Homo sapiens: one gene and its partners. The protein of the gene in region 1 purifies or fractionates together with the protein of each later gene. This does not show direct contact. Each region holds a gene or a part of one and is shown on either strand. Other genes may lie near its edges.

Evidence for each region.
Region 2: the proteins of LEMD3 (region 1) and TRDN purify together in Homo sapiens (co-immunoprecipitation; one large-scale study listed by IntAct). This does not show direct contact.
Region 3: the proteins of LEMD3 (region 1) and CSGALNACT2 purify together in Homo sapiens (co-immunoprecipitation; one large-scale study listed by IntAct). This does not show direct contact.
Region 4: the proteins of LEMD3 (region 1) and TDRD1 purify together in Homo sapiens (affinity purification with mass spectrometry; one large-scale study listed by BioGRID and IntAct). This does not show direct contact.

What each region holds. Positions count from the first base shown.
Region 1 is NC_000012.12:65,242,574-65,245,900, reverse strand, and holds part of LEMD3 (inner nuclear membrane protein Man1), read right to left. Parts: intron 2,514-3,327; coding exon 2,432-2,513; intron 233-2,431; coding exon 127-232; intron 41-126; coding exon 1-40.
Region 2 is NC_000006.12:123,626,791-123,630,481, forward strand, and holds part of TRDN (triadin), read right to left. Parts: intron 1-3,691. UniProt on the Homo sapiens protein: Contributes to the regulation of lumenal Ca2+ release via the sarcoplasmic reticulum calcium release channels RYR1 and RYR2, a key step in triggering skeletal and heart muscle contraction.
Region 3 is NC_000010.11:43,144,914-43,148,604, reverse strand, and holds part of CSGALNACT2 (chondroitin sulfate N-acetylgalactosaminyltransferase 2), read right to left. Parts: intron 1-3,691. UniProt on the Homo sapiens protein: Transfers 1,4-N-acetylgalactosamine (GalNAc) from UDP-GalNAc to the non-reducing end of glucuronic acid (GlcUA). Required for addition of the first GalNAc to the core tetrasaccharide linker and for elongation of chondroitin chains.
Region 4 is NC_000010.11:114,227,822-114,231,512, forward strand, and holds part of TDRD1 (tudor domain-containing protein 1), read left to right. Parts: intron 1-88; coding exon 89-135; intron 136-216; coding exon 217-309; 3' UTR 310-3,664; coding exon of another isoform or gene 3,665-3,691. UniProt on the Homo sapiens protein: Plays a central role during spermatogenesis by participating in the repression transposable elements and preventing their mobilization, which is essential for the germline integrity.

The DNA.
Region 1 (3,327 bases):
CAGCATATTCTGGAGACAGACATTTAACATATACACAACCCTGTGATATTAAAAAAGAAAGAAAATAGTCTTAGTTTAATAGCAACAAATCCAAAACATGAAATTCAATACCAAAAGTTACTTTACCTCACGTGAATTTTTGTCTACTGCAATGTGAACAATGCCATCATTATCACTGCATTTTTCTAAAATTGCTTCTTGAATTGCCAAATGCCACTGATCCCCTATTTCCCTAAAAGTTAATGAAAACAAAAATCAACAACCATATTCCTACTCGGTAAAAATTCTTCACTGTCTCTTACAACATATATATATTACTAGAATTGGTATAGTTTTAAAACCACATACGATTTTAATTGGTATTAAGTAAATGCTTGTTGACTAACAGGAGGTAGATTTAAAAATTACAATTCAGAAGTCTCAGCCCTCCTCCCACTTTCCAGTAAAAGAGTGCAGAGCGCTGGCCAGGCGCGGTGGCTCATGCCTGTAATCCCAGCACTTTGAGAGGCCGAGGCAGGCGGATCATGAGGTCAGGAGATCGAGACCATCCTGACTAACACGGTGAAACCCCGTCTCTACTAAAAATACAAAAAAAAAAAAAAATTAGCCAGGCGTGGTGGCAGGTGTCTGTAGTCCCAGCTACTCGGGAGGCTGAGGCAGGAGAATGGCGTGAACCTGGGAGGCAGAGCTTGCAGTGAGCCGAGATCACGCCACTGCACTCAACCCTGGGCAACAGAGTGAGACTCCGTCTCAAAAAAAAAAAAAAAAGAGTGCAGAGAGCTGAGGCAATGAAAGACTAGCCCACCGCTGCAGAATAAATGGATTGGGTCATTCCTATGTTTAAAAATCCTGTGTACTTACAGTAATTTCTGTTTTCTTTCTATTGTTAATAAGTACTTTAAATGAGTTGTGAACTTATTAAAGTTGTAAAAGTTAAATGTTAGTTATTTGAGACAGGGTCTCGCTTTGTCACCCAGGCTGGAGTGCAGTGGCGTGATCTCGGCTCACTGCAATATGTGCCTCCCAGGCTCAAACCATTCTCCCACCTCAGCCTCCCAGATAGCTGGGACTACAGGCACACACCACCAATTCTGGCTAATTTCTTTTGTATTTTTTGTAGAGACGGGGTTTTGCCACATTGCCCAGGCTGGTCTCGAACTCCTGAGTTCAAGTGATCCACCCACCTCGGCTTCCCAAAGCACTGGGATTATAGGTGTGAGCCACTGTGCCCAGCCGAATGTTATTTTCTTTAATTGTAATGATAGGTTCAAATTCCTAAAGAAAATTCTTAGTAAATACTACATTTGAGCTTCTCTTTTCCAAAATAATTGATACAGGACTAACATTTTGTACAGTCACCTTACTATAATGACAGTTTTAAGGTGTTTCTGCTGTAGTAAGGGACATTTGTCTTGCTTGTGAGACAAAGATGGCAGGAGAGAGAGGAAAGTGACTTCACTTCAAATCACAAATTTTCATCTTAGGTAATAAAATAGTGGACTTGCCAATTCCTAAGGCATGAGGTAAGATTCCCAACAGAGGTATCATCACACTACTAATTGTTTCTATCTCTGCAAAATAGAGGCGGTGTTTGTCTCTGTGTGTGTGGGGGGGGTGTGTGTGTGTGTGTGTGCGCGTGCCCACGTGCAAACACGTGTGCATACTGCTTCCTCACATTTCCAATTTTGCTGTCACTTATTTGGAATTTCATCAATGAGTGATTAGATGAGACTTTGGGGGTATTGTATACATATTGTAATTGCCACTGTTGGGACTTTTAAAACAAACAGAATTTGATCTGTACTATCACTGGATAGATAAGCAGTGCCCTCAGGAAGCTAATTCTAAGAACTATTACAGCTTATATATGAAATACTGTGAATTCTAAGGCAGTCACTTTTGACTGTGCTATTCTCTGGAAGCATATGTTGTTGGAATTATAAAGTCTGAAAAGTTCTTCAAATATTATATTGACAAGTGGAGACAGGACTTTGTAGAGAAGCAGGTATATACATCTTTGTAGGAAACTTTTTACAATTTGAGATTTGAAATTTGTAAGCAGCAGTGATTGTATCTATATTTTCTACTGAGGCAAAAATATTGACAGTCATGTATAATGACTTACACATTTAATAAAGGGTACTCTTTGTCATTGTGAGTCATTAATTTGCCTCAAGCATTTATCTATCTGCTATGACGATTCATAAGGAATACAAAGATTTATAAAAGTTTTACAAATCTTTATACATTAGTGTCCTTTGGCCAAATCTTTGCTTGGAATTTAATGAAAGAGAAAAACATAACATTTCTGTGGTAGAGATTCAGAAGAAAAACATTTTCAATTACAGACACACCATTATAAGAATATCATGCATTTTCCAGCCAAATATTCAGAATAAGAGTTACATGTACCCCTGATCATAATACTTACATAACGGGATCAAACATATTCCGAATCTTTAGACACGGTGTCAAACTATTTGGTGGTGAATTTCTTCTATCTAAATGAAATGCTACAAAAAACAAGTTAGTTTTACTATTTGACATTGTTCTAGTTTGTTGAAAGGTATTCAATCATTCAGTTCATTCAAAAAATATTCACTGCATGCTTTTACTAGGAGCCAGACCCCTGGTTAGATGTTAAGGTGAGTAAGACAGTCATTGCTATCAAAGAGTTTACAGTTTAATGGGAGAGACAGATGATAAAGAGTGTCATGTAAGAAAGTACAACTGTGATTAAGTCCTTAAAAAAAAAAGTACAAAAAGCTTTTTAAAAGTAACTTAACCTCATATGAGAAAATAAAACTTCCCTGAAAAAGTGAAATTTATGTGGGAACTGAAGAATAAAAATTAGCAGGGTGAAGAGAGGTGTGTAAAGGAAGATTTCAAGCAGAGGTGATTGCTTGTACACAGCTCCTGGGGCACGAAGGAGCAAATGTGGCTGGAGTAGAAAGAATAGAGATAAACCTACAGAAGATGTCAGATTATTTAAGATGATGTAGGCTACAAAAAAGTATTTGGGCATTATGGTAAGAGTAATAGCCACTCAACTGTTTTAAGGAGTAGAATAGGATGAGATCTGTCTTTTAAAACTACATATTTTAAAAATACATTGTTATGTGGAGACTCAGGTAAAAGCAGAAGTGAATGCAAGATGACCAGTTAGAAGGTTATTATTATATTATAGTTGTCTAAGAAGGAGAGGATAATGATGTGGGTAAGACAGGCCAACAGTGCAAGTGACAAGCGGATAGAATCAGGACATATTATGGAGTAGATATGACATGACCTGTTGAAAGGTTGGACAAAGAGGGATAAAGGAGAGAT
Region 2 (3,691 bases), on another chromosome or scaffold:
TTAATGGCATCTAGAATGGTGAATTCTTGAGAAAGTTGTCAATATAGTTTGCTTGGATCCATAAGAGGTATTTCTCCCTATGTCACCTATAGCCTTATAAAATGTTTTTTTTAATTTTTTATTATTTTATTTTATTTTATTTTATTTTATTTTTTGAGACAGAGTTTTGCTCTTGTTCCCCAGGCTGGAGTGCAGTGGCACGATCTCGGCTCACTGCAGCCTCCACCACCCGGGTTCAAGTAATTCTCCTGCCTCAGCCTCCCAAGTAACTGGGATTACAGGTGCCTGCCACCACGCCCAGCTGATTTTTTGTATTTTTAGTACAGGCAGGGTTTCACCACATTGGCCAGGCTGGTCTTGAACTCCTGACCTCAGGTGATCCACCCACCTTGGCCTCCAAATTGCTGGGATTATAGGCATGAGCCACCGAGCCTGGCCCACAAAATGTATTTCTTAAAAAATGTCTTGAAAATCAAAATTACTTCTTGAGCCATGAGCTGCAAAAATGATCTTCTGTTAGGCACGAAAACAACATTAATCTTTTTGTATATCACCATCAGAGCTCTTGGGTGACCAGGTGCATTGTCAATAAGCAGAAATACTTTGGAAGAATTTTTTTTTTGAGTAGTAAATCTCAACAGTGGGCTTAAAATATTCAGTAAACTATGTTGTAAACAGATGTGCTGTCATGCAGGCTTTATTATCTCATTGATAGAGCACAGGCAAAGTAAATTTATTGTAATTCTTTAGAGCCCTGGAATTGTCATAATGGTAAACCAGCATTGGCTTCAACTTGAAGTCACCAGCTGCATTATTCCCTAACAAGAGTCAGCCTAAACTTTGAAGCTTTGGAGCCAGGCATTGACTTCTCCTATCTAGCTCTGAAAGTCCTGGATGGCATCTTCTTCTAATAGAGGACTGTTTAGTCTACATTGAAAATGTGTTGTTTAGCGTAGCCACCTTCATCAATGATCTTAGCTAGATCTTCTGGATAACTTGCTGCAGCTTCTACATCAATCCTTGCTGCTTCCACCTTGCACTTTTATGTTGTGGAGATGGCTTCTTTTCTTAAACCTCATGAACCAACCTCTGCTAGCTTCCAACTTTTCTTCTGCAGCTTCCTTACCTCTCCACATCTTCACAGAATTGAAGAGATTTAGGGCCTTGGTCTGGATTAGGCTTTGGCTGAAAGAGAATTCTGGCTGGTTGGATCTTCTATCCAGACCACTAAAACTTTCTCCACATCAGCAATAAGTTTGTTTCACTTTCTTATCATTCATGTGTTCAGTAGCACTTTTAATTTCCTTCAAGAACTTTTCCTTTGCATTCACAACTTGGCTGTTTGGTGCAAGAGGCCTAGCTTTCAGCCTATCTTGGCTTTTGGCATGCCTTCCTCAGTAAGCTTAATTATTTTCAGCTTTTGATTGAAAGTAAAGATATGCAACTCTTCCTTTCACTTGAATTCTTAGAGGCTGTTGTAGGTTATTAATTTTCCTAATCTCAATATTGTTGTGTCTCGGGGAACAGAAAAGCCTGAGGAGAAGGAGAGATAGTGGGAATGTCTAGTTGTTGGAGCAGTCAGAACACACATATTTATTGATGAAATTCACCATCTTATATAGGGGCAGCTTGTGGTGACCTAAAACAATTACAATATTGATATCAAAGAACAATGGTCACAGATCACCGAAACAGACATACCAATAACGAAAACATTTGAAATACTGTGAGAATTACCAAAATGTGACACAGAGACAGGAAATGAACGCATGCTGTTGGAAAAATGGTGGTGATAGCTTTATTCATTTTCTTTGAAAAATGCAATATCTGTGGCATGCAATAAAGCAAAGTGCAATAAAAAGAGACATGGCTGCAATTCAAATTGGAATCAAATGTTTTATAATCTGTCCAGTCTTTATTCTCACTGTTATTTTTTGCTCTTTTCTTTTTGTTTTGCAATGTAGCAGGGACCTTTTATCATTCATTTTTGTGTCCACATTGTCAGGCATTCAATTTGGTACGTAATAGGTATTAAAATATTGAATAAAACCAAACCTCTGGCATGACATACTGCTTCATAAATCTACATCTAGGATGATAATTAATACCATAGAATCTAAAATTTTGTTATATTTCAGATGGAGGTAACTTGCCTTTTTCTAAATGCAATGCCTAATATTTCTGCAGATTTAAATTCACAAACTTGGCATTTTACTATACTGTAGTAACTTTCAGATTTTACAGTACGCTTTTTCCCCTAGTCAATAATATATAGGTTAAATCAGAATAACCATGGGCAAAAATAATAGCTCCAGCAGTGAATGTCAGAGAAGTGCCACTTCATATCTCTTATTTTTGTCTTGACATTATATTAAATGTCTTCCTCAAACAGAAAATTCCCCTAATCACATGATAATTTTATTTTCAAAGGCAACAGACAATTTTCCAAGGAAAGTTTGCTAAATATGTATTTTGAACGTCTGTATAAATGGAAACTGAATCTCTCACATCCACGAGCTCACTAATGCCCTAGACCATATTAAAACTAAGTTTGAAATACTAAGAGTTTTTCCTTCTTTTGTTTTTCTCAACACTTCAGTAACCTGTGTCAGGGAGGGGAGAATGATGCAGCAAATGCGTAGCAAAGATAAAACTGGTTTGTCACAATGAGTTCCAGCTTCATGCTGTCTAAATGAAACCAAGTTTCCCCTATAAAGAACAGGTTGCTCCATTTAAATTATCTTTGTTCTTATAGGTCAAAATATCATGTCTTTAACTTGTTTGGGTGAAAACCACATGCCCTAGCTTCTGGCACAGATAACAAATTAGAAAATATCTAAACCACATATATTTAAATGTAATATTTAAAGTACATTGTAAGTGAGATAGAGTCTGCAGTTTATGAGGAAACAGCTCATTTACATACCAAAGAATCTCTCACAATTGTAAATTCTGTGTGTCTTTGACAGCTTCACTTCAGGCATGGAGATGTGGAGATGTTTGATGTTTAGAGAGCATTAACTTGTATAGAGCAGAGCAAGACTTTATTCATTGCACATTTGCCAAGGATACTCTTTTTGGTTTCCTTTGAAGATAAAAATTACTATCTGTTTGGACCAGGAAGTTCATCTGTCTCTGCATAACCCTCACTAGGGGTAATATATATTTACATGACAATCAAATAAGTATTCTCTGTAAAAAACCAAGCCTGTCATTCGTATTATCCAGGGCAGGTGGGAACTGGAGACAGCAAAAACTTAACCTTGACAAATCTTCCTAGAACTTTAAGTAAAATGGAGCCTGAACTCCGTAAAGTCGACATTATTGTATGATGTTAATGCATAGTTGCCAGATGAAGATTTTTCCCCTGCTTTGTTCTTTTTAAATATGTTACATTAGATAATATGTATTTTTTAAAAATACATTAAACATGTCCCCAACGGGTTTCTTTTTGTTTGAAAGAAGAAAAGAATAATGTTTTAATACTATCTTTAAGCTCCAACTAAGCATAACTATAAAACCAAAAGCTTTACTGGAAAATCTTAACCATTTTCTTTTCAAATTGATATATTCAACACAAAGGTCAATGTAGATGATTTTAAAATTGCTTAGTTGCACTGTTTTATGTTTCTCTCATATTAAATATTGTTAACTGATTAAAAATTAATGCCAACAGTATTGGAGGCCTTAA
Region 3 (3,691 bases), on another chromosome or scaffold:
AAGAACTGCAAGACTTGTATTCATAGAAACTACAAAACATTGTTGGAAGAAAGTTAAGATTTAAATAAACAGAAAGACACCACACTCATGATTGGAAGGCTTAATATTGCTAAAATGGTAATATTCCCCAATTAATGTACAGATTAAACACAATCCTCTTCAAGAATCCCAGTGGACTTCTTGCAGAAATTGGCAAGCTGATCTTAAAATTTATACAAATTCAAGAAACCCAGAATAACCCAAATAATATTGAACAAGAAAAATGAAATTGAAGGAAAACACTTCCCAATTCCAAAAATTACTACAGAGCCCCAGGTAATTAAGACAATGTGGTATGGCATAGAAATAGACATATAGTCAATGGAATGGAACTTAAAGCCCAAAAATAAATCATCACATTTATGGTTAGTTGATTTTCAACAAGAATAGCAAGGCAGTTCAATGGGAGAAAGAATAGTTTTTTCAATAAATAGTACTGGGACAACTGGATATTTACAGGCAAAAGAATGAAACTAGACTCCTACTTCACACCACATTCAAAAATTATCTCAAAATGGGTCAAATATCTGAATATAAGAGTCAAAACTAGAAAACTCTTAGAACAAAACCTATGTGTAAATATTTGTGACCTTGGATCAGGCAACAGCTTCTTAGATATGACACCAAAGACAAAACAAATATTAACTGGACCTCATCAAAATAAAAAAACTTGTGTTGCAAAGGACATCAACAAGAAAGTGAAGAAATAACCCATACAATTAGAGAACATTTGTAAATCATTTGTCTGTCTTACTTTAAAAAGCAAAAAAAAAAAAAAAAAAAGATAACTCGACAAGCAAAAGATCTGAACAGACATTTCTCTAAAGAAGATATATAAATGGCCTATATAAATACATGAAAAGATGCTCAACACCATTAGCCAAAAAGGAAATGCAAATCAAAAGCACAATTAGATACCACTCCACATCCACTAGCATGTAATTCAAGGTGAATCATAGACCTAAATGGAAAAAAACCAAAAGCAAGCATAGGATAAAATCTTTGTCACTCTGAGTTAGGCAAAGATTTCTTAGATATGATATTCAATAGCATAAATGATAAATTGAATTTCATCAAAATTAGCAATCTGTGCTCTTTCAAAGACATTGTTAAGAGAATGAGAAGACAAGTGATGGACCTGGAGAAAATATGGGCAAAGCATGCGTCTTATAAAGGACTTGTACCAAGAATATATTTTAAAATGATCAAAATGAAATAATAACAAACACAACTCAATTAAAATGTGGGAAAAGGCCTGAACCCTTCAAATAAACACTTGAAAAAGATGCTCGGCCGGGCGCGGTGGCTCACGCCTGTAATCCCAGCACTTTGGGAGGCCGAGGCGGGCGGATCACGAGGTCAGGAGATCGAGACCATCCCGGCTAAAACGGTGAAACCCCGTCTCTACTAAAAATACAAAAAATTAGCCGGGCGTAGTGGCGGGCGCCTGTAGTCCCAGCTACTTGGGAGGCTGAGGCAGGAGAATGGCGTGAACCCGGGAGGCGGAGCTTGCAGTGAGCCGAGATCCCGCCACTGCACTCCAGCCTGGGCGACAGAGCGAGACTCCCGTCTCCACAAAAAAAAAAAAAAAAAAAAAAAAAAGATGCTCAACATTGTTAGTCATTAGGGAAATGCAAATCAAACCATAATAAGACACCACTACACAGAAGGGCTAAAAATAGAATGGCTAACATTAAAAAGAATGACCATACCAAGTGTTGTTAACGTGGAAGGACTAGAACTTTCATACACTGCTGATGGGAATATAAAATAGTTTTGTTAATAAGTTATGAACTTAACAAGTTAGATTATTTTCTTATTAAAAAAAAAAAAAAGACAGCATCTTGCTCTGTTACCAGAGCTGTAGCGCAGTGCCTCTATCATATTATAGCTCAATGTAGCCTAACTCCTGGGCTCAAGTGATCCTCCTGCCTCAGCTTCCCGAGTATCTGGGGCTACAAGTGGGAGCCACTACACCTGGTGGGATGGCTAATATTGAGTGTCAACTTGACTGAACTGAAGGATACAAAGTATTGTTCATGGGTGTGTCTGTGAGGGTGTTGCCAAAGGAAATTAACATTTGAGTCAGTGGACTGGGAGGGGTAGACCCACACTCAATCTGGTTGGGCACCATCTACTCAGCTGCCAGCGGGGGTAGAATAAAGCAGGCAGGAGAAGATGGAAGGGCTGACTTGCTGAGTCTTATGGACTTCATCTTTCTCCCATGCTGGATGCTTCCTGACCTAGAACATCAGACTCCAAGTTCTTTAGCTTTTGGACTCTTGGACTTACACCAGTGGTTTTCCAGGGGCTCTTGGGCCTTTGGCTGCACAGACTGAAGGCTGCACTGTTAGCTTCCCTACTTTTGGGACTCGTACTGATCCACCACTGGCTTCCTTGCTCCTCAACTTGCTGATGACCTATCATGGGACTTCACCTTGTGATGGTGTGAGTCAATTCTCCTTAATAAACTCCCTTTCATATATACATATATCCTCTTAGTTCTGTCCCTCTAGAGAACCCAGACTAATACACTTGGCTAATTAAAAAAAAATCTTTTTTTAGAGAGAGAGTCTTGCTATGTAGTCCAGGCCAAGTTTCTTAATAAGTGAGTAAGCCTACTCATATGATCCAGCCATTCCATTCCTAGATATTTACCTAAAAGAAATGAAAGCACATATTCATACTATTAAAATAAGATGGAGACCAGGTCTGTAAATCCCCTGGACAAAGCCAGTTAAGCCATTAAAACAACCTTGACCTTGCAAATATAAGCAATAGAAGCAAAACTTAATTTGGGCTGTTTGCAAATGTAAACTTTGGTTATTTTTTGTCTGTGCCTATATTAAAGAAAAATCAGGCTGGGCATGGTGGCTCATGCCTGTAAGCACCTTGGGAGGTTGAAGCAGGAGGATCACTTGAGGCCAGAATTTGAGATCAGCCTGGGCAATATAGCTAGCGAGACCTTGCCTCTATAAGAAATTAAAAAATTAGCCAGGCGTGGCGATGCATGTCTGTAGTTCATGTTGCCCTGGTTACTTGAGAGGCTGAGGTGGGAGGATCACTTGAGCCCAGGAGTTCAAAGCTGCAGTGAGCTACGATCGCACCAAAGCACTCTAGCCCTGTCTCTTAAAAAAAAAAAAAAAAAAAAAAAAGAAACAAACAAACTTAGGCTACGCCAATTAGAAGCCATCAACTAACTTACATAACTAGGGACTTTCCAATAGGATGGACTAAACAAGGCAACTATATAAATATAATTAATCAAATATTTTCTTTGCCTTGTTTCCTTGTTCATCCTATAGAAGTCTTCCACTTGCATTCCTTTGGTGGAGTCCCAAATCACTTTTGATTTGTTGCTGTCTGATTCATGAATTGCTGTTTGCTCAGACAAAACTCTTTAAAATTTTATTCTGCCTCAGTTTATACTTTAACAATACCAAAACTTGTACACAAATGTTCATAGCAGCTTCTAGGTGTAGAGCCCAAAACCAGAAACAACCCAGGGTCCACCAACAGGTGAATGGACAAACTGTAGTAAAACAGATACACAATGGAACACTGCTTAGCAATAAAAAGGAATAAACTCTGACACATGCTTCACCATGGATAAATATCAACAATTACTCTGAGTAATAGGAGCCAGGCAACA
Region 4 (3,691 bases), on another chromosome or scaffold:
GGAGAGCTATCTGTATATGTTTACACTCCCAAGTTTTTCTTCTTTACATTATGTGTTATCTAATGGCTTATTTTTCTTGTGCTTTTAGAAAAGATGTATAGGATGAATTGCTGCTGCACAGAGTTACAGAAACAAGTAGGTAAAATTTCCTTTAAGTGAAATTATACTCCTAACGTTTTTAGAAATTAAATCATATGGTTTCTTTTTCACCCACAGGTTGAAAAACATGAACATATTCTTCTCTTCCTCTTAAACAATTCAACCAATCAAAATAAATTTATTGAAATGAAAAAACTGTTAAAAAGTTAAGTAAGTTAAATCGTATGTTTTCGCCTCTTCTGTGATCACCAATAGGACATCTTCAGGCATATTGGCAGGATAGAGCTAATGGAGTGAAACCTATTGTAAGGCTGTACTTTCGTGATTTAATGACCTGAGGTTTGGTCATAATGCTTCTGCTGTTTTTGTAGGTTTATCTGATCGTTTTCCTTTGCTACTGCTAATGGAACTGAACCCCCAGGGGTATTCCAGTTGTAATAGCCTTTCCTTACTGTTGTTTGGTTCTGTGAATGCCTATGTTATTGATATGTGGAGGGACTTGTAAAACTTGTTGTGACATAAAGCTTAGCCTCAGATTTTTTGTCTAGATCTGAAATTAACTCAGAGCTCACTTATGCACATTGCTGTAAATATGTTTAGCACTTTTTGCGAGGGGTATCTAAAGGGCCAAGAACGGAAAGTGGATCTAAAGGGCCAAGAACGGAAAGTGGGCTGCACTGAGGGTATTTTTCATTTAAAAACAAAACATACTCCCTGCTTTTGGCTGTGGTGATTCTAGTGTCTAAAGAACATACTGGTGAGTTTTAAACCAGTGTTCCTCCCCACCCCACCCCCATATTTTAAATGTCTGGGATCCTTTGTTGTAAGATGGTTCTCAGAAATAAATTTTTGATTAAGAGCCAATTAGAACTTCTGATCAGGGCTGGGGGTGGTGGCTCACGCCTGTAATCCCAGCACTTTGGGAGGCTGAGGCGGGCAGATCACCTGAGCCCAGGCGTTCGAAGTCAGCCTGGCCAAGATGGCGAAACACTGCCTCTACTTAAAATACAAAATTAGCTGGGCATGGTGGTGCACACCTGTTAACCCAGCTACTTGGGAGGCTGAGACAGGAGAATCGCTTGAATCCAGGAGGCGGCGGTTGCAGTGAGCCAAGACTGCTATTATACTCCAGCCTGGGTGACAGAGTGAGAGTTTGTCTCAAAAACAAAACAAAACAAAACAAAAAAAAAAACAACCTCTAATCTCAGAATAAAGTTGTCTCTCCTCACCACTTTGAGTTGTTACAGTTCCAGCCAAAAGCAAAGGAACTTTGATTTACTTAATATGTGCACTTTTGTTGGTTAACAAATTTATATTAAACTGTTTGGAAATAGTTCAAGAGGTGGCTATAATACTCTTCATGAATCTTTTATGGGTGTAGTAACTCTCAAGTAGGAACCAACTGCCAACTGTGTTAAAACATATCTTTCATGTGGTAATAGACCGTTTCTTTGCGTTTTAAGAAAGGTCAATTGAATTATAAGCTAAATGTAATTAATGCAAGATCAACTATCTTGACTCTCATGTTTCCTTTTACAAATTTTGGGTTATTACAACTTTCAGTCCTTTCTAATACATTGTCTTAATACTGACTGTTTTGTATGTTTAAGCTTAAAATCTTTTAATCTTTTTTTTTTTTTTTTTTGGAGACGGAGTCTTGCTCTGTCACCCAGGCTGGAGTGCAATGGCGTGATCTCGGCTCACTGCAAGCTCCACCTCCCAGGTTCACGCAATTCTCCCACATCAGCCTCCCAAGTAGCTGGGACTACAGGCGCACACTGCCACACCCGGCTAATCTTAAACTTAATGGTGATTTTAATTTCATAGATCAAGGAACATGCAATGACATGGATTTCTGGAATTTAGTCCTAGTATCAAGTCACTATATATATATATATTTTTTTTTTATTTTTTATTTTTATTTTTTTTTGAGACAGTCTCGCTCTGTTGTCCAGGCTGGAGTGCAGTGGCGCTATCTCAGCTCACTACAACCTCCGCCTCCCGGGTTCATGCCATTCTCCTGCCTCAGCTTCCCAAGTAGCTGGGACTATAGGTGCCCGCCACCACACCCAGCTAATCTTTTTGTATTTTTAGTAGAGACAGGGTTTCACCGTGTTAGCCAGGATGGTCTCGATCTCCTGACCTCGTGATCTGCCCTCCTCGGCCTCCCAAAGTGCTGGGATTACAGGCGTGAGCCACTGCGCCCGGCCACCAAGTCATTACATTTTTAACCAAGTTGGTTGGCCTGTATGTTCTTCTTATCTGTGTAACAGGCATTTTTCCTAAGGATATTGAGTGTGCTTACACATAAAACTTAAAGTGAAATTTCATTGTTTCTTGATAGATTTAAGACAGGGCTTAGTAGCTTTCAAAAGAAAACTTGATTTAAAGCATAGTAGTTGAACTGGATTTTTCCTGACTGTGGGAATAAATAGATATTTTATTTACATTTGAATACAGTGCAATACCTTGTGTTTGGGTAGTACGTATTTACAAAGCATTTTTACATCTACTCACATACTTAATCTTCACAATGCCCTTGAAAAGAAAGTAGGACCCATTTTACAGTTAAGGAAGCTGAGGCTCAGAGAGGGTTACATGACTGTCCAAAATCACATACAGGCTGAAACACTAGGTCTTACGACTTAAAACAGTTGTGTCAACTTCCCTGAGCTGCTACGTGTACAGTATCCTTTTAGATCAGATCAGTTACATAGGGCATGAAACTAGAGGGTTACATTATTAGGAAAAAATAATGTACATGATTGCTTAAGCATTACTTCATTGTGGTGAAAATAGAGCTGAATATTTACTCCTTTAAATTATTCTTTGAGATAGAATGGGTGTAAAAATGTATTTTGGCTGGGCATGGTGGCTCAGGCCTGTAATCCCAGCACTTTTGGGAGGCTGAGGAGGGCAGGTCACATGAGGCCCAGGAGTTTGAGACCATCCTGGCCAACATGGTGAAACTTTGTCTCTACCAAAAAAAATATAGAATTAGCCAGGTGAGGTGGCGTGCACCTGTAGTCCCAGCTACTGGGGAGGCTGAGGCAGGAGAATTGCTTGAACCCAGGAGCCGAAGGTTGCAGTGAGCCGAGATGGCACCACTGCACTCCAGCTTGGGCAACAGAGTGAGACCCTGTCTCAAAAAAATAAAATAAAAGACAAACACATGTATTTCATCATCTGGAGAAATTTAATTGTTAGCAATTTAATTGTAAAATTGCTAAAACAGAAGTGCTGTGGTGATATGAACATAAAACCCTCTGTAATCTGTTGCTCAGGTGATGTTTCAACACACAAGTTAATGTCAGATATCTTTTATATATAAGGAGAGTGCAAACAACTATATGTTATATTTGTGAAGGGGAGTATAAACAGCTGTACTTAGCATATATTATGCTATGTTATGGTGGTCATTAATTTTCTTAACTGACAGGTCTGGCTTAAATGCGTAATTTCAGTTAAAAGTGAATATTTTGTTTGCTTGTATTTGAAATTAAAAGCCATAGCAATTGAGTTTTTGTGTAAGGCATAATGATAGTTGATTTTTTTTCTTTTTCAGAAACAGCATCTCTTGGAGGTAAACCCT